Linked DNA regions of Homo sapiens. The protein of the gene in region 7 purifies or fractionates together with the protein of the main gene of each other region. This does not show direct contact. Each region holds a gene or a part of one and is shown on either strand. Other genes may lie near its edges. The genes, in order: PRKACB, NRAS, INPP5A, PPP1R16A, PXN, CALCOCO1 and RABGGTB.

The links.
Region 1: the proteins of RABGGTB (region 7) and PRKACB purify together in Homo sapiens (affinity purification with mass spectrometry; 3 studies listed by BioGRID and IntAct, with this or other methods). This does not show direct contact.
Region 2: the proteins of RABGGTB (region 7) and NRAS purify together in Homo sapiens (affinity purification with mass spectrometry; 3 studies listed by BioGRID and IntAct, with this or other methods). This does not show direct contact.
Region 3: the proteins of RABGGTB (region 7) and INPP5A purify together in Homo sapiens (affinity purification with mass spectrometry; 4 studies listed by BioGRID and IntAct, with this or other methods). This does not show direct contact.
Region 4: the proteins of RABGGTB (region 7) and PPP1R16A purify together in Homo sapiens (affinity purification with mass spectrometry; 3 studies listed by BioGRID and IntAct, with this or other methods). This does not show direct contact.
Region 5: the proteins of RABGGTB (region 7) and PXN purify together in Homo sapiens (affinity purification with mass spectrometry; 4 studies listed by BioGRID and IntAct, with this or other methods). This does not show direct contact.
Region 6: the proteins of RABGGTB (region 7) and CALCOCO1 purify together in Homo sapiens (affinity purification with mass spectrometry; 3 studies listed by BioGRID and IntAct, with this or other methods). This does not show direct contact.

What each region holds. Positions count from the first base shown.
Region 1 is NC_000001.11:84,234,771-84,238,270, forward strand, and holds part of PRKACB (cAMP-dependent protein kinase catalytic subunit beta), read left to right. Parts: intron 1-409; coding exon 410-535; 3' UTR 536-3,500. UniProt on the Homo sapiens protein: Mediates cAMP-dependent signaling triggered by receptor binding to GPCRs.
Region 2 is NC_000001.11:114,710,272-114,713,771, forward strand, and holds part of NRAS (GTPase NRas), read right to left. Parts: intron 1-3,500. UniProt on the Homo sapiens protein: Ras proteins bind GDP/GTP and possess intrinsic GTPase activity.
Region 3 is NC_000010.11:132,540,787-132,544,286, reverse strand, and holds part of INPP5A (inositol polyphosphate-5-phosphatase A), read right to left. Parts: intron 1-3,500. UniProt on the Homo sapiens protein: Phosphatase that specifically hydrolyzes the 5-phosphate of inositol 1,4,5-trisphosphate to inositol 1,4-bisphosphate, and inositol 1,3,4,5-tetrasphosphate to inositol 1,3,4-trisphosphate. Plays a crucial role in the survival of cerebellar Purkinje cells.
Region 4 is NC_000008.11:144,494,982-144,498,481, reverse strand, and holds part of PPP1R16A (protein phosphatase 1 regulatory subunit 16A), read right to left. Parts: exon of another isoform or gene 2,022-3,500; 5' UTR 1,288-2,021; coding exon 1,029-1,287; intron 506-1,028; exon of another isoform or gene 487-505; coding exon of another isoform or gene 265-486; exon of another isoform or gene 1-264. UniProt on the Homo sapiens protein: Inhibits protein phosphatase 1 activity toward phosphorylase, myosin light chain and myosin substrates.
Region 5 is NC_000012.12:120,209,947-120,213,730, forward strand, and holds the end of PXN (paxillin), read right to left. Parts: intron 2,883-3,784; exon of another isoform or gene 2,689-2,882; coding exon of another isoform or gene 2,656-2,688; exon of another isoform or gene 2,635-2,655; coding exon 2,368-2,634; 3' UTR 501-2,367; downstream 1-500. UniProt on the Homo sapiens protein: Cytoskeletal protein involved in actin-membrane attachment at sites of cell adhesion to the extracellular matrix (focal adhesion). Recruits other proteins such as TRIM15 to focal adhesion.
Region 6 is NC_000012.12:53,720,953-53,724,452, forward strand, and holds part of CALCOCO1 (calcium-binding and coiled-coil domain-containing protein 1), read right to left. Parts: intron 2,832-3,500; coding exon 2,641-2,831; intron 1,232-2,640; coding exon 1,073-1,231; intron 664-1,072; coding exon 515-663; intron 1-514. UniProt on the Homo sapiens protein: Functions as a coactivator for aryl hydrocarbon and nuclear receptors (NR). Recruited to promoters through its contact with the N-terminal basic helix-loop-helix-Per-Arnt-Sim (PAS) domain of transcription factors or coactivators, such as NCOA2.
Region 7 is NC_000001.11:75,789,256-75,792,420, forward strand, and holds part of RABGGTB (geranylgeranyl transferase type-2 subunit beta), read left to right. Parts: coding exon 1-101; intron 102-221; exon of another isoform or gene 222-292; intron 293-696; coding exon 697-802; intron 803-896; exon of another isoform or gene 897-1,019; intron 1,020-1,190; exon of another isoform or gene 1,191-1,262; intron 1,263-2,029; coding exon 2,030-2,082; intron 2,083-2,205; coding exon 2,206-2,316; intron 2,317-2,925; coding exon 2,926-3,051; intron 3,052-3,165. UniProt on the Homo sapiens protein: Catalyzes the transfer of a geranylgeranyl moiety from geranylgeranyl diphosphate to both cysteines of Rab proteins with the C-terminal sequence -XXCC, -XCXC and -CCXX, such as RAB1A, RAB3A, RAB5A and RAB7A.

The DNA.
Region 1 (3,500 bases), 8.4 Mb from region 7:
GCTCGCACACGGTGCGTGCACCCACTGACCTGCGCCCACTGTCTGGCACTCCCTAGTGAGATGAACCTGGTACCTCAGATGGAAATGCAGAAATCACCCGTCTTCTGTGTCCCTCACGCTGGGAGCTGTAGACCGTACCTGTTCCTATTCGGCCATCTTGGCTTCTCCTCTTATCCCAGAAATTTCTTAAGTATTTTGTTGACCTGCATACTTCCTTGAATCAAAATGTTGAGGTTAATAGCTAACCTACTGCTTGCTGCTTCTTCTAGCACTATTATATTTTAGGAACCTAATGGCATCTAAGGATTTCACCGTGTAATAACAGTGGGAATTTATTTTTCTTGGTGTTTGGAAACTCTCAGGAATTTTTTTTTCCTTTTTCTTATTTTTCTCTCCCTCTCAATTATAGGTTGAAGCTCCATTCATACCAAAGTTTAGAGGCTCTGGAGATACCAGCAACTTTGATGACTATGAAGAAGAAGATATCCGTGTCTCTATAACAGAAAAATGTGCAAAAGAATTTGGTGAATTTTAAAGAGGAACAAGATGACATCTGAGCTCACACTCAGTGTTTGCACTCTGTTGAGAGATAAGGTAGAGCTGAGACCGTCCTTGTTGAAGCAGTTACCTAGTTCCTTCATTCCAACGACTGAGTGAGGTCTTTATTGCCATCATCCCGTGTGCGCACTCTGCATCCACCTATGTAACAAGGCACCGCTAAGCAAGCATTGTCTGTGCCATAACACAGTACTAGACCACTTTCTTACTTCTCTTTGGGTTGTCTTTCTCCTCTCCTATATCCATTTCTTCCTTTTCCAATTTCATTGGTTTTCTCTAAACAGTGCTCCATTTTATTTTGTTGGTGTTTCAGATGGGCAGTGTTATGGCTACGTGATATTTGAAGGGAAGGATAAGTGTTGCTTTCAGTAGTTATTGCCAATATTGTTGTTGGTCAATGGCTTGAAGATAAACTTTCTAATAATTATTATTTCTTTGAGTAGCTCAGACTTGGTTTTGCCAAAACTCTTGGTAATTTTTGAAGATAGACTGTCTTATCACCAAGGAAATTTATACAAATTAAGACTAACTTTCTTGGAATTCACTATTCTGGCAATAAATTTTGGTAGACTAATACAGTACAGCTAGACCCAGAAATTTGGAAGGCTGTAGATCAGAGGTTCTAGTTCCCTTTCCCTCCTTTTATATCCTCCTCTCCTTGAGTAATGAAGTGACCAGCCTGTGTAGTGTGACAAACGTGTCTCATTCAGCAGGAAAAACTAATGATATGGATCATCACCCAGATTCTCTCACTTGGTACCAGCATTTCTGTAGGTATTAGAGAAGAGTTCTAAGTTTTCTAAACCTTAACTGTTCCTTAAGGATTTTAGCCAGTATTTTAATAGAACATGATTAATGAAAGTGACAAATTTTAAATTTTCTCTAATAGTCCTCATCATAAACTTTTTAAAGGAAAATAAGCAAACTAAAAAGAACATTGGTTTAGATAAATACTTATACTTTGCAAAGTCAAAAATGGCTTGATTTTTGGAAACAATATAGAGGTATTCATATTTAAATGAGGGTTTACATTTGTTTTGTTTTGTAACCGTTAAAAAGAAGTTGTTTCCAGCTAATTATTGTGGTGTACTATATTTGTGAGCCTAGGGTAGGGGCACTGCTGCAACTTCTGCTTTCATCCCATGCCTCATCAATGAGGAAAGGGAACAAAGTGTATAAAACTGCCACAATTGTATTTTAATTTTGAGGTATGATATTTTCAGATATTTCATAATTTCTAACCTCTGTTCTCTCAGTAAACAGAATGTCTGATCGATCATGCAGATACAATGTTGGTATTTGAGAGGTTAGTTTTTTTCCTACACTTTTTTTTGCCAACTGACTTAACAACATTGCTGTCAGGTGGAAATTTCAAGCACTTTTGCACATTTAGTTCAGTGTTTGTTGAGAATCCATGGCTTAACCCACTTGTTTTGCTATTTTTTTCTTTGCTTTTAATTTTCCCCATCTGATTTTATCTCTGCGTTTCAGTGACCTACCTTAAAACAACACACGAGAAGAGTTAAACTGGGTTCATTTTAATGATCAATTTACCTGCATATAAAATTTATTTTTAATCAAGCTGATCTTAATGTATATAATCATTCTATTTGCTTTATTATCGGTGCAGGTAGGTCATTAACACCACTTCTTTTCATCTGTACCACACCCTGGTGAAACCTTTGAAGACATAAAAAAAACCTGTCTGAGATGTTCTTTCTACCAATCTATATGTCTTTCGGTTATCAAGTGTTTCTGCATGGTAATGTCATGTAAATGCTGATATTGATTTCACTGGTCCATCTATATTTAAAACGTGCAAGAAAAAAATAAAATACTCTGCTCTAGCAAGTTTTGTGTAACAAAGGCATATCGTCATGTTAATAAATTTAAAACATCATTCGTATAAAATATTTTAATTTTCTTGTATTTCATTTAGACCCAAGAACATGCTGACCAATGTGTTCTATATGTAAACTACAAATTCTATGGTAGCTTTGTTGTATATTATTGTAAAATTATTTTAATAAGTCATGGGGATGACAATTTGATTATTACAATTTAGTTTTCAGTAATCAAAAAGATTTCTATGAATTCTAAAAAATATTTTTTTCTATGAAATTACTAGTGCCCAGCTGTAGAATCTACCTTAGGTAGATGATCCCTAGACATACGTTGGTTTTGAGGGCTATTCAGCCATTCCATTTTACTCTCTATTTAAAGGCCGTGAGCAAGCTTGTCATGAGCAAATATGTCAAGGGAGTCAATTTCTGACCAATCAAGTACACTAAATTAGAATATTTTTAAAGTATGTAACATTCCCAGTTTCAGCCACAATTTAGCCAAGAATAAGATAAAAACTTGAATAAGAAGTAAGTAGCATAAATCAGTATTTAACCTAAAATTACATATTTGAAACAGAAGATATTATGTTATGCTCAGTAAATAATTAAGAGATGGCATTGTGTAAGAAGGAGCCCTAGACTGAAAGTCAAGACATCTGAATTTCAGGCTGGAAAACTATCAGTATGATCTCAGCCTCAGTTCTCTTGTCTGTAAAATGGAAGAACTGGATTAGGCAGTTTGTAAGATTCCTCCTAACTTTCACAGTCGATGACAAGATTGTCTTTTTATCTGATATTTTGAAGGGTATATTGCTTTGAAGTAAGTCTCAATAAGGCAATATATTTTAGGGCATCTTTCTTCTTATCTCTGACAGTGTTCTTAAAATTATTTGAATATCATAAGAGCCTTGGTGTCTGTCCTAATTCCTTTCTCACTCACCGATGCTGAATACCCAGTTGAATCAAACTGTCAACCTACCAAAAACGATATTGTGGCTTATGGGTATTGCTGTCTCATTCTTGGTATATTCTTGTGTTAACTGCCCATTGGCCTGAAAATACTCATTGTAAGCCTGAAAAAAAAAATCTTTCCCACTG
Region 2 (3,500 bases), about 39 Mb from region 7:
TATATAATTTATAATATATAAATATATATAATTTACACATATAAATATATATTTATATATATTTATAAATAAAAAATATATATACAATATATATTATAGCTGGGTGTGGTGGCGCATGCCTGTAGTCCCAGCTAATTGGGAGACTGAGGTGGGAGGATCACCTGGGTCCAGAAAGGTCAAGGCTGCAGTGAGCCATAATTGTTCCACTGCACTCCAGCCTGGGCAACAGGAAAAAAGAAAGAAAAGAAAGGGAAGAAAGAAAAGAAAAGAGAAAAGAAAAAGAGAAAGAAAGTGAGAGCGAGAGAAAGAGAGAGCGAGAGAGAGACAAGATTTCAGGAAGGAATAAATGGCTAGGGCAAAAAAGAAACTAGCAAATTTTATGTAGCCCTATTAACTTGTAGTATTTTTGCTTTTTTCTACCACTTAGAGAAGACATTGTATACTAAGGAGACTGCTTTAGACTTGTTGCAGCAGCCATCAGGAAGCCATAAGTACAAGCTCACCTTCTAATGGGAGTGGATGGGTATTTTATCCTGATACATGACCTAGTGAGGCTCCTGGATTCTCCAAAGAGCTTGGCTCTGGATTTAACTGGCAACTAGAAATCACCCTTTAGATTAAGGTCTAAAGTATAAAAAGTGAAGCTCACTGCTGCTAAATAACTAGGTGTGACAGTATTTAATGGAAGGCAGTCTATCACTTTTCAAGATGGGTGGTGCTCAAACATTTTCTTCAAATAAATTGTAGATGAAGCTGGGCATGGTGACTCCCGCCTATAGTCTTAGCACTCTAGGAGATTGAGGTGGGAGGATCACTTGACCTAGGAGTCCGAGACCAGCCTGGGCAACATGGTGAAACCTTGCTTCTACAAAAAATACAAAAATTAGCTGGGCATGGTGGCACATGTGCCTGTGGTTCCAGCTACTCAGGAAGCTGAGGTGGGAGGATCCCTTGATCCCTGAGAGGTTGAACCCTGAGAGTGTCATGCCACCGCACTCTGGCTTGGGCAACAGAGGGAGACTCCATCTCTAAAAAACTAAAACAGGCCGGGCACGGTGGTTCACACCTGTAATCCCAGCCCTCTGGGAGGCCGAGGCGGGTGGATCACCTGAGGTCAGGAGTTTGAAACCAGCCCGGCCAACATGGTGAAACCCCAAGTCTACTAAAAATACAAAAAAAATTAGTCAGGCATGGTGGTGGACGCCTGTAATTCCAGCTACTCGGGAAGCTGAGGCAGGAGAATCTCTCGAACCCGGGAGGCGGAGGTTGCAGTGAGCCGCGATCGCACCACCGTACTCCATCCAGCTTGGGCAACCAGAGCAAAACTCCGTCTCAAAAAAAAAAAAACAAACAAACAAAAAAAACAAACCTAAAACAAAACATTGTATCTGGAAGCCCAAGCGATAAAATAGAAAACATAAGAACTGCTCTTAGTAAAGGGAGGCTGAAGCATCTAGAACTCCTGACAGCACCCCTTTCAATGACATGTAAGGCACACCACACAGCACACCTGGGAAACAATTGCTTTAGATTGTCTTGACCAACACAATCCAACAGTACTTTATGTGATGATGGAAATGGTCTATATCTGTACTGTTCAACATGGTACCTACTAGTGGCTATTGAGCATTTGGTAGTCAAGGAACTAATTTTTAAATTTTATTTAATCTTAATTAACTGTAAATAACCACATACTGCACAGTACTGTTTTAGTCTCTACCCCTGGATTACCCACAAAGTCATGTATCTGAACTACATTCCACTGGCTATTTGCAAAACTGTGCTTGATGGTAATAGCCTACATTAAGGGATAAGACAGCCTAAAGTACCTGGACCATGTCACTGTCAGGTTACTACTGATTTTTACATTAAACAAGCCTCTTTGAGGATCCATGGGAAAATTTCCTTCTAGTCCGAGCAACTTAACGGCTTTCAGCATACAGATACTGAATCTTTCAGCTGGCTACTTTCCTTTTCACAACAGTGACCAAATTTGTAGTCCACCTTTAGAAAGCCACTGGAACTTCATGCACAATCACAGAATATGCTCACTCCTAAATTTGTTTATTTTACCCTTATTTTTTTGGTCTCACTTAAGCCTATTTTTCATTAATCTTATCTTGCTCTACTATATGCATTTTCATAAGATGTTTTAAATACTCTTTGGTTTGAGCTAAGGCATATAGAAAAATGAATAAATTTCTTGTAAGAAAGAAGAAAAATGACTTCTAGAAATTCAAAAAACATTTATTAGATGCATGCCAAGTGTGGGCATTTTATTAAGTACTGCTATTACTTTTAGACAAAAAAAAAATGGGAAGTACAACAGGTTAGGAAAAGAACACTTGAATTCAGTGTTGGACCAATCTGCTTTTGAGAGCAGACATCTTCACATGGATAGAAAATAAGCCAAGACTCAAGCCTTTAGGCAGAACACTTAAGTAGCATTTACTGTGTGCCAGGCACTATTCTGAGTGATTTGCGTATTTATTAAAACTGTAATCTTCACAACTCTATGAGGTAGGTATTATTATTTCCATATTATAGGTTAGGAAAGCCACATAGCCCCTGAGTCACGTCGCTAATAAACAGAGCTAGGTTTCAATCCAGGCAGAGTTCTCATTCTTAACCATTATATTATTCTGTTTAAGAACACTGTGCTAAGAAAAAGGAGCTTTGGGTTTTTGGTCCTGGCTCTGCTACTAATAACAATCCTGACTCCAAAACCTAACAAACGACATTCTGAACTCTGTTTCTGATTCTGCAAAATAAGAATATTGTACTAGAATTTTTATGGTCCAATCTAGCTTTGAAACTTTATGGTTCTATGGACAAAGTCTATCTTTATGTTCCCTTGCTTTGTTTTCATCTTTATGGACTTCCTATTTGCTTACTCCTATCATTTTATTTTTTATTTTTTTTGGAGACAGAATCTTGCTCTGTTGATTAGGCTGGAGTGCAGCAGTGCAGTGGAGTGAGCATGCCTCGACCTCCTGAGCTCACGTGATCCTCCCACCTCTGCCTCCCGAGTAGCTGCCACCATGTGTGACTAATTTTTTTATTTTTATTTTTGTAGAGACAGGGTCTTGCTCTGTTGCCCAGGCTGGTCTCCAACTCCTGGGCTGAAAGTGATCCTCCCGCCTTGGCCTCCCAAAGCACTGACATTCCAGGTGTGAGCCACTGTGCCTGGCCTATCTTTTCCATTACATACTGAAAGATGTTTCTTGGAGATGTTTTCCTCTCTGAAATTCCTTCGTGATCTCTAATTACAACAACTCTGGTTCCAAGTCATTCCCAGTAGCAAGCTTCACTTATGTATTATCAAACTTTATAGTAACAGTATATTATGTAAAATAAATTCCAGTATTAACTTTCAGTAATTACCCTAGATTCTCAATGTCAAACAACCTAAAACCAACTCTTCCCATAATTAAAAAGCTCTATCTTCCCTAGTGTGGTAACCTCATTTCCCCATAAAGATTCAGAACACAAAGATCATC
Region 3 (3,500 bases), on a different chromosome or scaffold from region 7:
ACTCTGCTCTGGCCGGAGCGGCAGAGCAGGGCCCCACCTACTGCAGGCTAGCATCCTGGTTGTGCGCTTCTCGCTGGGAGTGGGCACCCACACAGAGATGGCACTTATGGCTGTGCGTCTAGATGAGGTCCCAGGAAGGGAGAAGGGTGGCCAGCCTGAGCCCAGGGGCGCCAACACTGAGAGGTGCAGAAACCAGAACCCTGGGAGGGATGTGACATGGGGCAGCCACCATGGACTGCCTGACAGGCCCTCAAGGGTTAAATACGAACTCACCACGTCACCCAGCAATGCCAAGACTATGCACACCCAACAGCACTGAGAACGCATGTCCGCCTAGGGACGCCTGCAAAGATGCACACAGCAGCACTGTTCACCAGAACCGGAAGGCGGGAACAGCCCAAACATCCACTGTTCACCCGAACTTAAAGGTGGGAATAGGCCAAACATCCACTGTTCACCAGAACCGGAAGGAGGGAACAGGCCAAACATCCACCAGCTGATGAACACAGAAACAAAACTTGGTGTATCCACACAATGGAATATTATTCAGCCATAAACAGGAATAAAGAGACTTGGCACTGTGGCTCATGCCTGTAAGCCCAGCACTTTGGGAGGCCAAGGCCAGGGGATCACTTGAAGCCAGGACTTTGAGACTAGCCTAGGCAGCATAGTGAGACCTCATCTTCTCAAAAAGTAAAAAGAATTAGCTGGGCATAGTGGTGCATGCCTGTAGTCCCCGTTATTCAGGAGGCTAAGGCAGGAGGATCACTTGAAGCCAGGAGGTCAAGGCTACAGTGAGCTGCGATCACACCATTGCATTCCAGTCTGGGTGAACAGCAAGACCCCGTCTCTGTAATTTAAAAGAAAAAAGAAAGAAAGGAAGAAATGCAGGACTGACGCACGCTGCAGCATGGACACTTTTACATACGCTCAGTGAAAGCAGTCAGGTCAAAGGGCAGACCGTCTGATCCCATGTATGTGAAACGCCCGGGACAGGCAAATCCACAGAGAGGAAAACTGACTGCAGGGGGTGGGGAGGCTGGGGGACGTGGGGCTTGGGTGCTAATGCAGCTTCTTTTTGAGGTGATAAAAATGTTCTACAATTGCCTGTGGTGACAGCTGCACACCCTGTGAACATACTGAAAACCAGTGAATTGTACACCTCATATGGGAGAAAGGGCTGGGTGTGAGGGCCCACACCTGTGATTCCAACACTCCGGGAGACAGAGATGAGAGCACTGCTTGAGCCCAGGAGTTTGAGCCCAGTCTGGGCAACACAGCAAGACCCCATCTCTACAAAAAATAAAAATAAAAAAATCAGCTGGGTGTGGTAGCGTGCACCTGTGGTCCCAGCTACTTAGAAGGCTGAGGCAGGAGGATGGCTTCAGCTCACTTCAGCCCAGGAGTTCAAGGCTACAGTGAGCCACCGCACTCCAGCCTGGGTGACAGAATGAGACCCTGTGTGAAAACAAAAAAGAAAAGGAAAAAGAAATGGGTGAGGGGCATGGTGTGCGAATTCTGTCCCAGCACAGCCATTACCAAGTGAAACGTCCCTGAAGAAGAAGGAGGATCCACAGAGGGAGCAAAAATTCTGGCTAGTCACTGCCAGCTGGGTACAACCCGCACCCAGCCCTGGGCCCTGCTGTGCAGGAGTGCTGGGGCAGAGGCCTGGAGAAGGACATGGAGGGGAGACCCCCCCACCCCACTCGAGGGCTGCCACGGTAGAGAGTCAGGATGCCCCGCAGTGGCTGGAGGAAACATGGAGTTCAGAGTTTTCAAGGTGGGAGAGAGGGCAGTACCTTTGGTGTTGCCAGGAACCACATGGCAAAGAAGGCAATGCTGATGCTACCAGAGAGAGACGCCAGCCTGCACCACTGACCATCACCGACTCCATACCCACAGCAGCTCCGCCACCTCCACGCTCTTCCAGGGCTCTTCAACACCTGCTGACTGCAAGGTGCTCAGGTCCCTGCCAGCGAGCACTTGCCGAGCCCACTCTCACAGCCGTTCTGCAAACCCGGGTCTGGGCAGAGGGACAGGGCTGCCCGGGAGCTGACTAAGCAAAAAGGCAAACTGGCTCAGAACTGACTTAGCTGCGAACAAGCAGCAGGAAGGGCCACCAGGCAGATACCCGCCAGCGGGCTGTGTTCTCAGGACCAAACAGCAGCCTGACCATGCAAGGGTGGGACGCCACAGCTGGCAAGAATTCACCTCCTCAATTCCCTTCTCATAAAAATGGAAGGAACCAAAAGCCAGAAACCTCACTTGTCAAAAAACCAGCCACATCAAAGCAAAACAATTAAATATGGACCCCTGGTCACCTCTTTCCAAGCAAACCAGTAGTGACAGCAGGAGTCCAATCCAGGAATTAAAGACCAGCTGCAGGGCTCACCGAGGGTGATCTGGCAGTCTGCATAAGCCTGGGAAAGTCCCAGGCACCCCAGCCACCTGGCCAGAGACAGGGGTGCCCATGACAGTATGGGGAGGGAGGACTGGGCTGAGGAGGCCTTTTCACAGGTTGACTAGGTCAACACTATTTCCATAATACTACAAAATGACTCCTCTTTCCATTCTCACTGTCTCCTAGGGAAGAACGGCCAACACCTGAGGGGGTGCCTGTGATGTGGGATGATGTAATCGCTCTGCCAGCTAGTGCAGTGAGCTATGTATTCTCATGCAGTCTCAGCTCCCAATATGAGAAATATTGGTAGTTATAACCAACATAAACAAGAACTCTTTCGGGTCCTCCATAATTTCTAGGAAAGTGAGGGATAAGGGCTTGGGGACCGGTACACTGTAAGGCATTTACCGCAACACTGTCTGCACAGGGTCAGACACAACCCCAGTGGGGACAGCCCCGCAGCCCGCAGCATGGCCAATCTGGGGTCACAAAGATGGAGTAGTGATGAGCAAACAGGGGCTGCTGAGTGAGATTCCGTGTGGATCCCAGGATGCTACAAACCACAGCTGAAGTGGATGCACGCAGCGTTTTGAGAGGGGTGACCTCTGGACCAGGGACAGTGGCTCACACCTGTAATCCCAGCACTTTGGGAAGCCGAGGCAGGTGGATTGCTTGGGCCCAGGAGTTCCAGACCAGCCCGGACAACACGGCGAAACCTGGTCTCTACAAAAATTAGCTAGGCATGGTGGCATGTGCCTGTGGTCCCAGCTACTTAGGATGCTGAGGTTCACCTGAGTCAGGGCGGTCGAGGCTGCAGTGAGTTGTGACCGCACCACTACAGCACTCTAGCCTGGGCGACAGAATGAGACCCTGTCTAAAACAAAAACAAGAGGGGGAGGAGGAGGGGCCTTAAGAGGGGAGACTTTCAAAACTGCAAAAGCAAAAGCAAACCACCTATCACTTGTGCACAAAAGGAAAACAGAGTCCGCCACAGTCCGGGATATCTGCTTCAGATTCAAACACCTTCCTCCTCGGAACTGTGACCGGCTCCAGCACTGGTCACAGACGAGCTTGGCTTCCAACACGGTGAGACTGGGCG
Region 4 (3,500 bases), on a different chromosome or scaffold from region 7:
AATCCCACACCTCCCTCCAGCCCAGGAAGAGCTCCCTGCCTGGAGGCTACCACAGCTCCTTCGGCTCTTCCCTGACAACCTGCCAGCCCTGTGTTCATGAGCTCTCCTGGGTCCTCTGGGACCTGACCTGAGGCTCCCCACCACCAGAGCACATCCCTGCTCTCACTCCCCTCCCCATCAAAGATCCCAACTCGGGCCCAGCTCTCGCCCAGGTCACCAGGGTTCTCCCTGACGGTGCCTGGGGTGCAGCAGGAGGGCTCCCACCTTCCCACAGCTCCCTGTGGACCATGGCACCCTCCGCCTCTTCCCTCTGCCTCCAGGCCTCCCGGGAGGGCTCCTGTCCACATGGAAAGATGCAGGCCAGACACTGCCGGCTCCTCTTTACTCTCTGCTCCGGAGGGAGGCAGGAAGGAGTCTCAAGGGCCACCACAGTGCCTCTTCCCCCAAGACTCCAGAGCACCAGAAGTGGAACCCACACAGCTGGGGCTGCAAGCGTGGGGCACAGGTGAGGAGAAGAGAGTCACAAGCAGAGCCTAGGGCAGGCACTGAGAGGGGGCCACCTGCATAGCTCTGTGCCTGCCCAGGGCCTGGCTCTCTCACCCACAGAGGTGGCTGGTCCCACCCTATTTCACGGAGGTGGAGACCAGGGCTCTCCTGAGCAGCCTAACAAGAAGCAGCAATGACTACCGGCCACCCCTGCTCCCGTGGGGCCCCGCACTAGGTTTTTCTGCAGGCTCCTGGGGGTCCACTCATGGCCTCAGCTCACCTCACAGCAGGAGCCCTCTGCATGCAGCCCCCGCCTGAAGGACGGCTGTCCCGCACAGGCTCACCTCAGGGCTGCCCACTGCTTGGGGCTTGCCTGATGGGGGCACCCTGGGCCACCCAGCCTGAAGAGACCAGGCAAGATCTGGGGGCTGGAGCCCAGGAGCTGTGGACAGGCCCAGCCCCCAGCCTTGGCATGAGACGGCACCCAGGTAGCAGGGAGTGGGCCGTCTGCTGGGAGCTGCTCTGGGCTCAGCCACACTCACCTTCTTCCAGGTCATTTCGGGCAGCGGCCTCCAGAAGGACAACACTGGGAGGGAAGAGGACCTGCTTCAGGAGCCCTTGGCTGGCTGCCTCCTTCCGGGGACGCTCCCCAGGACCCTTCTTGCCCTGGGCCTCCTTCTCAGCCTGGGCCCACATCTTCACCTGCTGGGCGCGCCGCTTCTGGGCATGCTTCAGCCGCTCCTGTGTGCTCATCCTGCCCACCATGGGCATCTCTGCCAGCAGCTCCAGGTGCTCGGCCATGGCGGCGGCTGCTTGCCCACAGGGCTGCTCGGGGCACCAGAGTGGGGAGCTTGGGGGCCAGGCTGGGCCTGAGGGGTGGGGCAGCTAGCTGGACTGGCACCCTCGGGGGCATCCCCTTCCCAGAGCTTCGTGCCCTTGGCTGGGTCAGGAGGCCCCACACAATAACCAGGCCCAGGCAGCCCTGGGGGGCATGGGCCGGGGCAGGGAGGGCAGTGTGGGAGGGCACCCCAAACCTGCTCCCCAGGCCAGCCTCTAGCTGTCGACAAGCAGCGCCTCGCCTCCCTCTCGGGGTCAGGGTGCACAACCTATGGGAGGCAGCCCCGAGACCTGGCCGGCCTCAGTGCAGGGTCTGAAACTAATTACCCAGATAACAAGGTTCCAGCTTCCGGGCACCCTGCTGAGGGGGAAGGGAGGGCAGGGCCAACCAGCAGTGAGAGCCCCTGTGAGCCCCTGAGAGTCCTCTTTTCACCTTCTAGGCTCAGGAGCCTGGGTGGGGCCTGGGAGCAGCCATGACCCAGCCCCCAACCCCTCCCAGCTGTGTGCCGAGGTCAGTGCATCAGTACTAACGAGGAGGTGCAGCCGCTGAGGCTGGGGGAGGGCAGGTAGTCAGAGTCCTGGAGTCCTGGCCCCAGGGCCCAGGGGTGAGGCTCTCTAGGCAGCCAGGGCACCAAGGGCACAGGCGGGCCGGCCGCAGTGTCTTCAGGAGCACCTCCTCTTCCAGCAGCTGCTCACACCTGAGAAGTGGGGAACAAGGAAGCATATCAAGGCCGGCTTGAGGCAGGGTGGCCCGGGGGAGCCCCTGCCCTGGGCCTCAGGTGAGACCAGGCTTCCAGCTGTCTCAGGTCCTGCCCTGTGTGAGGCCCACCCTTTGTCCACAGAGAGCACTGCAGGTCAACAGTCCTGGGGGTACGGGGAGCTACTCTGCCCCCATTCTGCCCCAGGTTCAGAGAGGGGCGGGGGAAAGGCATGTCAGGCTCCTCCCACCCACCCTTTCCAGAAAGGGCCGCCCACCCCAGCGAGGCGTTCCCTGCTAGGCTGCTCCTCCAGGGCCAGGCGCTGCCCTAAGGCTGGGCAGGGTGAGGTCTCGTGGAACAGCCTTGAGGGCTTTGCAGGCTACTGCCTTCCAAGGGCAGGCCCCGCCTCCTGGGCCTCCACCTCTCCTGCCTTCCAAGGGTAGGCCCCGCCTCCTCCTGTCCTGACTGATACCCCAGCCTCTCACTGCCCAGTCTCTAGACCTCTTCCTTGATGGGCTCCCACAATGCCTCTGCCATCCTAGGCTGCAATAAAAGCCCCCACCTGGTGCCTGGCTTGAGGCCTATGGGGACAGACAGGCAGGCAGACAGCTTCGGCTGGGGCACAACCCTGCCTATGTACCTGCTATGGCCCTAGTCCTGCCCGACACACTAAGTGTGGTTGCTGGGCTGGCCACAGGCCTCACCTCAGAAGGCACTCTGTGCTTGGCCAGGCGCGGTGGCTCAGGCCTGTAATCCCAGCACTTTGGGAGGCCAAGGCGGGTGGATCACGAGGTCAGGAGATCGAGACCATCCTAGCTAACAGGGTGAAACCCCATCTCTGCTAAAAATACAAAAAAAATAGCTGGGCGTGGTGGCACGTGCCTGTAGTCCCAGCTACTCGGGAGGCTGAGGCAGGAGAATGGCGTGAACCAGGGAGGCAGAGCTTGCAATGAGCCAAGATCACGCCACTGCACTCCAGCCTGGGTGACAGAGCGAGACTCCGAGAAAGAAAGAAAGGAAGAAAGAAAAGAAAGAAGGCACTCCGTGCTCTGCAGAAGATGCCTGCCAGGAGTCCTATTCTCCACCCAGCCAGGCCTCATGGCCATCTACACACTGACCCAACTCTTCACTGCTGGACTTCTACCCAGGTGTTTCATAGAATGCCCCCTTCTTTCAGAAAGGGAACTGTCCTGGGCCAGGTCAAATTAAGCCAGTCAGGTCCTTCCTGCTCAGGGGCCCCCAATTTATCTGGGAGCCCCACTTTACAGGTTCAGCCTACTCTAGACATAGTCCCCCCCTGTAGGCCTAGCCTCAGAGGCTTCCTGAGGACACGGCCAATAAGGCCAGTGGCCCTGACCTGGCTTTCTGCCTGCCAAGTAAAGAGCTTTTCCAGGCAGTAACTCTCCCTCCGAGCAGCCTGCTCCTAAGCCTGGCCAGCTCTGTAGACCGCAGAGGCCAGGGCAAGCACACACTGGCCAG
Region 5 (3,784 bases), on a different chromosome or scaffold from region 7:
CTTCGGCAGGGAAGGGGCTAACCCACGTTGTGTGGGCTCAGGCACGGCCGCGTCTGGTTCTGTGCAGGAACACAGGCAGAGGCAAGCCCTGGGTCCGCATCATGGCTCTGCCCTCACTCAGATTGCCTTGTACATGTAGGTTCTTGTCCTAGAGCCTCTTTCCCTACTTCTAAATGAGTGGAAAGCCACCCACAAGCCCGTGAGTGAGGATGCCCTTGGTAAACCCAGGTGATCACACCCTGGGCAGGCCCTGCCCCACAGGGCCCCATCCCGCTGCTCCCCAGCCTGTCCTCACCAACTGCCCAGGCAGGAGCAAAGCCCACGGGGAGGACCTGTGACCACAGGCAAGGACCACGGACCCCAGCCCCAGGGATTTTGACCTCAAGAAAGGAAACATCCACAATTTACCCTCCATCTGGTGATCCAGCTGCATCTGGGGTGGGTTTGGTCTCTGCTGGGACCATGAGGTTCAGACCACCAAGAAATAGCACTAGCACAGGTGAAAATCATGGGCAAACTTTATTGGCATAAATCACAGGAATTGAAATGGGAAAAGCCAGCTTGGAAGTTTACAGAGAAAAAATAAAATCAAAATCAAATTTTCAAATAACCACTGACTCAGAGAATGGACCCCAGAAACCCCAGTCCCTCTTGGGGAAGATCTAGGGTGGGTCACTATAAACAGAGCGGTAAGGCCTGCGGGTGAAAGTGGAGACATCAGACCTTTGGAGGGGCTGGGCTGACCTTCCCCCAAAAAGGAGGGACCCTCTTCGGAGACCCCAGCACACTCGGCTTCTGCCAGGAGGCCAGTGGAGTGGTTTGGACTGTCACCATTAGACCCCGGTGGGGCCCCTTTCTCCTCATCAGGAGCCCAAGGCCTGGCTCCTCTTTCATCCTTGGTAAAGAGCTCTGGGGGGTTTCCCCAGAGGAGCCTGTCCCTCTGCCCCAAATCCTATCATGCTCCCTTATGACCTTCTTTCCAGACCCCCTGAGTGCCGATCCCACCTGTGAAAGGGGAGGAGCAGATCTGGGGAAGGGATATGCCCAGAGGAAATCAACAAGACCAAAGAGACGTCAGAGTCCTGATGGCCAAAATCAGACACCAGCTTTCCTGAGAAGGCAGAAGAGAGAGCCCCATAGAAGCAGTGGGGGCTCAGAAGGTTCAGTGGGTTCACAGGGGAGCAGAGGCTCCTGAGGGCTTACTCAGACAGGAAGCAGCCCCCCAAAACATACTTCCCCTTCTCCTCCCACAGAAACAGAACAGATAAAGTTCAGAATTCTAGGCCCAAAAGGGTGCAACACCCTTCAACCAGTTTCAGTGAAGAGCTTGCTGGCCTGGGAAGTAAAGAAGGGGTTTCCAAATACAGCAGTTTATAAAACAGTCCTGGTGAGCTATGAAGTGAAAGAGGGGGAGTCACAGAGCTGCTCCCAGTTCACCTGCTTGTGCTAAGAAACAATAAAATACAAATTGCTTCCCCACCCCAACCCTCAGTACAAAGCAAACTTCACACCAGAGCCACCATCAGTGACAGGCCCAGTGGCGGTGGATGAGGAAGAGAATACAAAAGGGAACGTCTTTAAAATCTCTTCAAAATCATTTTGTATAGAGAAGTAAAAGCAACTCAGGCGATATGAATTCAAACCTCAGTGTAGAAATCTATCAAAGTCGGTACAGTGTCCAGGCACGCCGTCCCGGAGACGGAGGAAGTGACTAGAAAACATTATTGCTGGAGAGGCTTTTCTCAGTAGAACAAGAGCAGGTATAAAAGGGGAGGGCGGGTCTAAAAGGCAGGGGCAGTCGCCAGGCCTAGGGCACTGGAAGGGTAGGAGGAGCACAGAGAACCTTCCATGGCCCCTTTGGTTCTCTGCCTTTGGATGGATGGATTTATGCTGGCATTGTCTGGAGGGAGCCGGGTGTCCCCCAATAATCACAGAACAAAGACAATTAGGTCGGGGGAGGAATAAGGATAAAAAGAGACCCCAACAGACCCTGCCTGCCCTTCCCTGCCCCCCGGCTGCACTGCTGAAATATGAGGAAGAGATGGCTCCAGTGTGGGGTGCTGGCCAGGCCAGTTCGTGGGGACGTACATGGGCTGGGGTGGAGCCCCCAGCCTCTACCCCTGGGGAGGATGGAGAGTGGGCAGCCTAGGGAGAGCTACAGGAGGGAGGAGGGGGCCCAGAGGCTCTGGCAGGGGTGAAGACAAGCAGGGGGACCCCTCACGGCCCTCTGTCCATCCCGCACCAGCGGAGGACAAGGGTTCCAGTTTCAGTCGGGTTTACCCCTTCACCCCCGGGTGAAGTCTCTAGGTCACAGTCGCAGTTGGGGATGCTGGCTGGGGAAGGGGGGCAGAGACAGGGGCAGGGCACCTAGCAGAAGAGCTTGAGGAAGCAGTTCTGACAGTAAGGCTTGTCGTTCTGCTCCTTGAAGGTGCCCTTGTTGAGCTGCTTGAGGCAGAAGGCACAGACGAAGTGCTCGGGGTGGAACTTCTTGGCCATGGCGGTGATGCAGCGGCCGGTGATGGGCTTCTGGCAGCCAGAACACAGCGAGCCGCGCCGCTCGTGGTAGTGCACCTCACAGTAGGGCTGCCCGTCGTGCTCGAAGAAGCTGCCGTTCACGAATGGCGTGAAGCATTCCTGCCAGGCGGAGAGAGGGGCTCAGGGAGCTGCCCCTCGGGCTAGAGCTGCACCCTGTGTGATGGGGCCGAGGTGGGCATAGTCGGCACGCTCGGAGTGACTCCTACTTGCTAGGCGTTTCCCATGTGCCGTGTTGTCCTAAACGCTCATTTTTCATTTTTATTTTATTAAATAAATTTTTTTTGTAGAGATGGGGGTCTCACTATATTGCCCATGCTGGTCAAATGTGGCCTCCTGCAATCCTCCCACCTCGGCCTCCCACAGGGCTGGGATTATTTAGTTCTCCCAACAGGGGAGGCAACTGAAGCACACAGGTGAAGTAACTTGCCCAGGGTCATGCAGCTACTGAGGTCACAGCCTGGATTCATACACAGGTCTGACTCCTGAGCACTTAGCCAGGTGGCTGTAACAGTGTTCCCAGAAACACAGGTGTGACACTGGTCTGTAGTCAAACTCTGCCTCCTAGATTCTCATTGGAGATTCACATCACATATAGGTAGAAAAGGCTCTGAGAGGGGCCGGGTGAGGTGGCTCACACTTGTAATCCCAGCACTTTGGGAGGCCAAGGGAGGCGGATCACCTGAGGTCAGGAGTTCAAGACCAGCTTGGCCAACATGGTGAAACCCCGTCTCTACTGAAAATACAAAAAATTAGCCAGGCATGGGGGCGTGTGCCTGTAATCTCAGCTACTTGGGAGGCTGAGGCGGGAGAATCACTGGAACTCAGCAGGCAGAGGTTGCAGTCAGCCAAGATCGTGCCACTGCACACCAGTCTGGGCAACAGAGTGAGACTCCGTCTCAAAAAAAGAAAAGAAAAGAAAAGGCTCTGAGAAGTCCTGCAGGGAACAGTGTTTCCCAAACTCATTTGGTCAGAGAGCCCTTGTTGAATCATTAATAACCCCTGTGGGGCCCCCAGAATGCAGTGGTTTTGGAAACCACTGCCCATTTCTGTTGAGTCTGCTAAATACTTGCATTATCTCATTTAGTTCTCACACACTCTCCTCCCAAATAGGAATGGCCCAGGGCCGCTGCACAGGGCTGGACTGGGGGACATGTCTACCTTGCTCCTGGTTTGTCCCAGCCTCAGTACAAACCCTGGCCCAGGACCTACTGGACTGGAGGAAGGAGATCCCCTGCCTGCTCCCCCAATT
Region 6 (3,500 bases), on a different chromosome or scaffold from region 7:
TAAAGAGGCTGCCTCCTGAGGGTGACCTCTTACATACCCTCATACATATCTTACAATCCCAGTGCTAAGAGTTTATGATTTGCATCTTTTTTTTCCAGGGCAGAGATTCCATAACATTCCTGGATCACCAGTTATAATGTTTCTTAATAGTAAGAACACAGTCTAATCTTATCTTTCCTGTGGCCACATCTGAAATCCATCCTCTCTTATCTTGCACTGACTTCCATCCATTCTCTTCTTCCAAATCCTCCACTCCTAGCTCTTGCTCAGCTTTTGCTGTACAATAAGTGGTAACTATGATTATTTCTGAAGTGGAGGAATACAGAATAGCATTTGGAAAGATGGTAGAGAGCTCGGCAGAAAAGGGTATCCCCAGTAACTAGCTTGAGTGAGGGTGAGAGGGAAAGAGAAAGCGTGTGAGGCAGACAGCAGGTCTGCTTGCCTGAGAGAGGGGGCTGGAGTGCGGGGGTCATGGAAGGGAGAGGAAGTGACGGGGTCAGTGGACTCCCCTCACCTGTCCAGCTCCACTTCCTTCGTCAGCACTTTCTCACTGATGGTCTGGATGTCATCCTCTAGCTCCAGGATGCGTGCCACATGGTCTCCCTGTTGCCGGCTCAGGATGTCCCTCTCTTCTGTGATCTCCCCATGGGACCGGGAAATCCCCTGAAATTAAGTTTCCCCCAGAAGAAAAGGGAGGTTGGGACTCATCTCTCAAGTGGTGGAACAAAGGCTTAGGAAGAGCACACCAGGGTCTGACTGCTTCCACCTGGCTATCACATTGCCTTCCTTGAAAAAGAAACTGTAAGGGAACATTCCCTTACCTATCAACGTGGCCACCTCCACCTTACCCCAGCATTCCTATGTTCAAAGAACTGAGTCTCATTACACGTTTGGAACATGTCTCTTGTCACATCAAGTTTAATCCCAGCCACTACCCCTTAAACCTATTTCCTTGATGCCAGAACCATTGTAAAAGCCCACTAACATCTCTCCTTCACCCTCTTCACTGGGTTCAGATTTTGGATGCTGGGTGAGCAGCCAGGCCCTGTCCCCTACCTGGCCCAGCTCCCACCTTGTACTGTTCCATCAGCTCCGTGTGCTCCTGCCTGGCAGTTGCCAGAGCCCTCTCGAGCTCCTGCACTCGGCTCCTCAGCTCTGTCACCTGTCCCTCCAGCTGTAGCTTCAGCTGCATCAGGTCATTCCGTTCTTGCTGGCTCTCATCGAGCTGGTTCTACAGGCAGCAGAAGGAGAAGGGGAGTGTGCTGGTGGAGTACCCCTTCTAAGGTCCCATCCTCACCACTCTCCAGGTGCATTTTGGGTTTGGGAAGTTACATAGCTTTGGGTTATAAAGAGGTGAGGAAGGGGATGCTCAGTGTGCTACCGAATCCCGTCCACCACCCAGTCAGATGCACCAGCTCATGGCACTCTGAATTGCCCATCTCTCTTACCCCTCCCCACTCTAGGCCTGGCCCTTTCCTCATCCAGCAATTGCAGGAATCCCTCATGTGGCACAAGTCAATGAACACAGACACAAGGGATGGGTCCCCTAATTTTACCCTATCTGCTCTGGAGTTGGACAGACTTGGGTTCAAATCTTCAGTGCAATTTTTACTAGCTATGTGATTTTTTTTAAAGATAGGGTCTCACTGTGTTGCCCAGGCTGGAGTGCAGTGGCTAGCCATAGGTGCAACCATAGCATACCATACCTCAAACTCCTGGCCTCAAGCCATCCTTCCACCTCAGTGTCTCCCCCAGTAGCTGGGACTACAGATGCATGCCACTACACCCAGCTAGCTATGTGATTTTGAACAAGCTTCTTAACTTCTCTAAGTCTCTGTGTCCTCATCTGTAACATGATCCCTTAGTCTGAATTGTTGTAAGGCTCAAATGAGAATCACGATTGTGAAACCGCAACAGAGAGTAGGAGCTCACACATCTTTCACTTACGTGAGATATAAACATCTTCCTGGGTGACAGAGCAAGGCTGTCTCAAAAAAAAAAAAAAAAAAGAAAAGAAAAGAAAAGAAAAACCCAAAAAACAAACAAAAAAACCCCAAACAGTATCATTTCAACATGTAGTCAAAATAAAAATTATTGAAGTCTTTTACATTCTCTTTAAAAAATACTAAGTCTTCAAAATCTGGAGTATATTTTACCCTTATAGTACATCTCAGTTTGGATTAATTGCATTTGAAGTGCTCAAGAGCCATATATAGTTAAGAGCCTTTGGTATTGGACAGTACAGGTCTGGGGCCTTGCCTATCTGCTCTCACTCCCCACTCGTCCTAGAAGCAGGTCCTGTGCTCCCCTTTCTCTGAATGTTCCCTGGAGTAGCCTCTCTCCACCCTTTGATCTTCCTCTAGGGCATAGGGCAGGATGCAGTGCATGGAGAAGGAAGGCTGCAAAAGTTCTTATGAAATCCTGAGTTACACTGGCCTGTGGGTGGTCTCCTTTCCTGCCTTACATGTTCGTGTATGTCTATGTTAGACTGAGACTCTCCTGGAGGCAGGACTTTGTCTAACTTTCAACGAGGTCTTTAGTTGGCGCCACAGATGAGGGGAGGGTAAGGTGGGAAGGGTCCTCTTGCAATGCTGTCTCCCACTCCCTTGTCTGGGAATAACTCTGTTGCTCTTTTCTCACCTGTAACACAGTTGCCTTGGGGACAACCAGCAGGATGTCAGAGCCCCCATCAGCCTCCTCCAGGGTCACCAGTTCATCCATGGGCCTTGGCTCTCGGAACTGGAAAGGGGGGCTCTGCCCACACACCTGGCCCTGGCGGTTCACATATCGGAACTGGTAGAGCTGAGCTCCTGGTTTGGGCAGGTAGCTGGCTGTGGGAAGAAGAATGGACCCAGGACCCCAATAATCCACTGTCCTTGGCCCCAGCCCCTTGCTCGGTGTTCCATATACTGTTTCTTCTCTTCTCCACCTCCCACAGGCCATACTCTTCTCCCTCCTTTCTGCCTGTCCCTCTCCTTCCTTTCTTTCCCAAACCCACTGCCCCTCTATCATAATCATAATAATGCTAGTTACCATGTAGTGAGTGCGTACCATGTACCAGACACTGTGGTAACACTTTTTATTTTATTTTATCTTGAGACAGAGTCTTGCTCCATCGCCCAGGCTGGAGTGCAGTGGCGCGATCTTGGCTTGTTGCAACCTCTGCCTCCCGGGTTCAAGAGATTCTCCTGCCTCAGCCTTGTGAGTAGCTGGGACTACAGGCATGCACCACCACGCCTGGCCTGCAGCTTTCATTTTAAATCCTCGTAATGTCCCTATAAGCCAGGCATCCCCTTTTACTGTTAAGATAACCGACACAGGGAGGTTATGTAATTTGCCCAAGGCCAAACAGCTTGTAAGTGTTAGAGGTGAGATTTGAACCCAGGTCTTTCCCTCTTCTCACCACATAATTCTACCTTTCCCTCTTCCTTACTCCCCCATTTTTCCTTCTTTGGGTAGGACAGGGGACTAGATGCCCTCTGAAGTTCCTTCTGTTTCTA
Region 7 (3,165 bases):
AGATTCTGGCATTTATTAAGTCTTGCCAACATGAATGTGGTGGAATAAGTGCTAGTATCGGACATGATCCTCATCTTTTATACACTCTTAGTGCTGTCCAGGTAAATACTAATCAAAATTGCAACGATCTTGATAGTATGTTCTCTTACTTCAGAGTTGGAAATTGAAACTGTATCAGGATTTGGTCAAAAAGTTTTGTTACAAGTGAAGCTGTCCTACAAGGTCAATGATGTAATGGCATGTATTAGCTGAATCTAAAGTTGATGTGAGTTCTAAAATTACACTGAGACCTTGGAGGGTAAAATTTTTATCTTCAGTATGTGTAAATACTGTAAAATAGCTAAATGGAGCTATTTGATTTTGATATTAGTGAACATCTACCTGGTGGTTTAAAGTCTTTCTGGTACTACTGGGTGCTGAGATGGGAAGATCAGGACTTTGTGTGGATGTGAGTTAGTATACTTGAGTATCTTGGAATGCCAAGTTAAAATTTATATGTAGAAAATTATACTTTAAAGATTTGAGTTTTCTTGATACTATCTAATTTTATTCAATAACAGGAGAGTCTGCATATTTGAGAAAAGGTTATATACACAGAGACAAAAGGATGTGCTTGACAACTTAAAAAGAGTTGAGCATAAGATCATTAGAATAAACCTGAAAGGGACATTTACCTAATACTTGTCTTTATTGCAGATTCTTACGCTGTATGACAGTATTAATGTTATTGACGTAAATAAAGTTGTGGAATATGTTAAAGGTCTACAGAAAGAAGATGGTTCTTTTGCTGGAGATATTTGGGGTAATGTCAGATTTAGTCCATTCTACCCAAAATACCAATATTAAAATGTACTGGTTTTGCTAGTAACCAGTTTATAAGTTTTTCATCTTTTCAGGTCCCACTAAGCAGCTGGTCTAACTGGAGTTAATGGTCTGCTGGAACTTCCAGCATGCACTGTGGTAGTTATATCAGCATATACAGGAGCACTGGAACAGAGGGGGCCAGTCTAAAAGATAAGGTAGGTGGAATTTTTTTCCCCAATATTTGGTGGCTTTGTAAAGTTTTTTAAAAACTACTTGCTGGAAAGGGAAAAATATTTAAAAAAAAAAACTTTACAAACTTGCTGAATATTTGAGTGGAGGGAGGGAATAGAATTTTATTTGATAAACGTAGATAATCTCTGCTTTAGGGATGAACACAGTGCAGGCCAGAGAGACCAGCTGCTTCATGGGATGTGAAAAATCTACTTTTATAAAGTAGGGTAAGTTTATTTCATTATTAGAAATGGACTAATACTTTGGGTTCTATTAGTTTTCTTCTCTTTGGTTTTCTTCTCTTTCTGGGCTTTCTTTAAGCAGCTTAAGATAATTTGCTGTTACTTTTTTGTGGCAGGGTCTTGGCTCTGTCCAGGTTGGAGTGCAGTATTTTGGGAGACAGTTGCTGGGGCTGGAGAGCTCTGTTGCCCAGGCTGGAGTGCAGTGGTGCAATCTTGGCTCACTGCAACCTCCACCTCCCAAGCTCAAGCAATTCTCCTGCCTCAGCTTACAGAGTAGCTGAGATGTGCACCACAACACCTGGCTGGTTTTTGTGTTTTTAGTAGAGATGGGGTCCCCTGGCCTCATGTGATCCTCCTGCCTCGGCCACCAAAAGTGCTGGGATTTCAGGCCTGAGCCACAATGCCCAGCCCCACCTAATTTTTTTTAAAAAGTTTTTTGTAGAGATGGGGTCCCATTATGTTGCCTCGGCTAGTCTCAAACTCCTAGGCTCAAGTGATTCTCCCACCTCAGCCTCCCAAAATGTTGGAATTATAGGCAAGAGCTACTGTGCCTGGTCAATTTGCTGTTATTTTTGACAAAGGAATTTTCTTGGGAAGTAAAGGCACTTCAGATTTAGCTTTCCTCCTGACTACCCTAAAGTGAAAGTTAAGCTTGAACTCAATTTAAAGTGGTAGTTGTGCAGTGTTTGTTTTTAGATGACTCATGTATGATTTGGTAACACCTGCCTTGATTTGATCTATTTTTATTGTAGGAGAAATTGACACAAGATTCTCTTTTTGTGCGGTGGCAACTTTGGCTTTGTTGGTAAGCTTTGAATATTTGATTGAAATGATTAAAGTTCATGAATACTCTGGAATTTTTTTTTTTTTTGAGTCTGATCTGCTGAATACTCTGGAATTTAACAGGCATCTTTTTTTTTGTTTGTAGGGGAAGCTTGATGCTATTAATGTGGAAAAGGCAATCGAATTTGTTTTATCCTGTATGAACTTTGACGGTGGATTTGGTTGCAGACCAGGTTCTGAATCCCATGCTGGGCAGGTAATTTATGAATACAGATGAAAATGTATTGTCATTTTGGAAGCCAGTGTAGTAAAATAAGAAAATTGGTTATTTCAGTGTTTGTCAAATACACATAAAGTTAATTCGACTGTAATAGGGCATCTTACATAAGAATTGCTTAATTGCTATCATTACTTTGCTTTATATACTATATACCTTTCTCTGTCGGTGGATTCGTCTGACCTAAGCAAACATAAGTGGGTTTATAAGCACCAAAACACTTTTGTTTTCCATTAATTTTTCACTAACCATACAGATAAAAAAAAAAACAACACATTTTTCTTTCTTTCCTAAGATAAATTATGAACCTCTTTTCTTGTGCCAGAGAACACTGAATATGTGAATGGATGGCTGTGAAATACTAGCCATGAAGAAATTTTGACAATAATATTTCAGTGCAGAATTGCATACTAGTAATAGTATGCTTGGATTTTTTCAGATATGTGGTATTAATACATGTTTGGAATTTTAAGTGTCAGATCAAGAAGAAAAACTTAAGATATAAAGTGGTGTTTTAATAATTTGAGTTTTATCACTTTTAATGTCAAGAAATTATTATACACATAAACTTTATGTCTGTAATTTTAGATCTATTGTTGCACAGGATTTCTGGCAATTACAAGTCAGTTGCATCAAGTAAATTCTGATTTACTTGGCTGGTGGCTTTGTGAACGACAATTACCCTCAGGCGGGCTCAATGGAAGGCCGGAGAAGGTATTGTTTGATAAGCCATATTCTGCTAGCTTTAGAACCTTGAGTGAATGCTGCTGCTTTGTCTTGCCTGTTTCTATATTGTAAATTGGCCATGAGCTTATTTATTACCTTTCC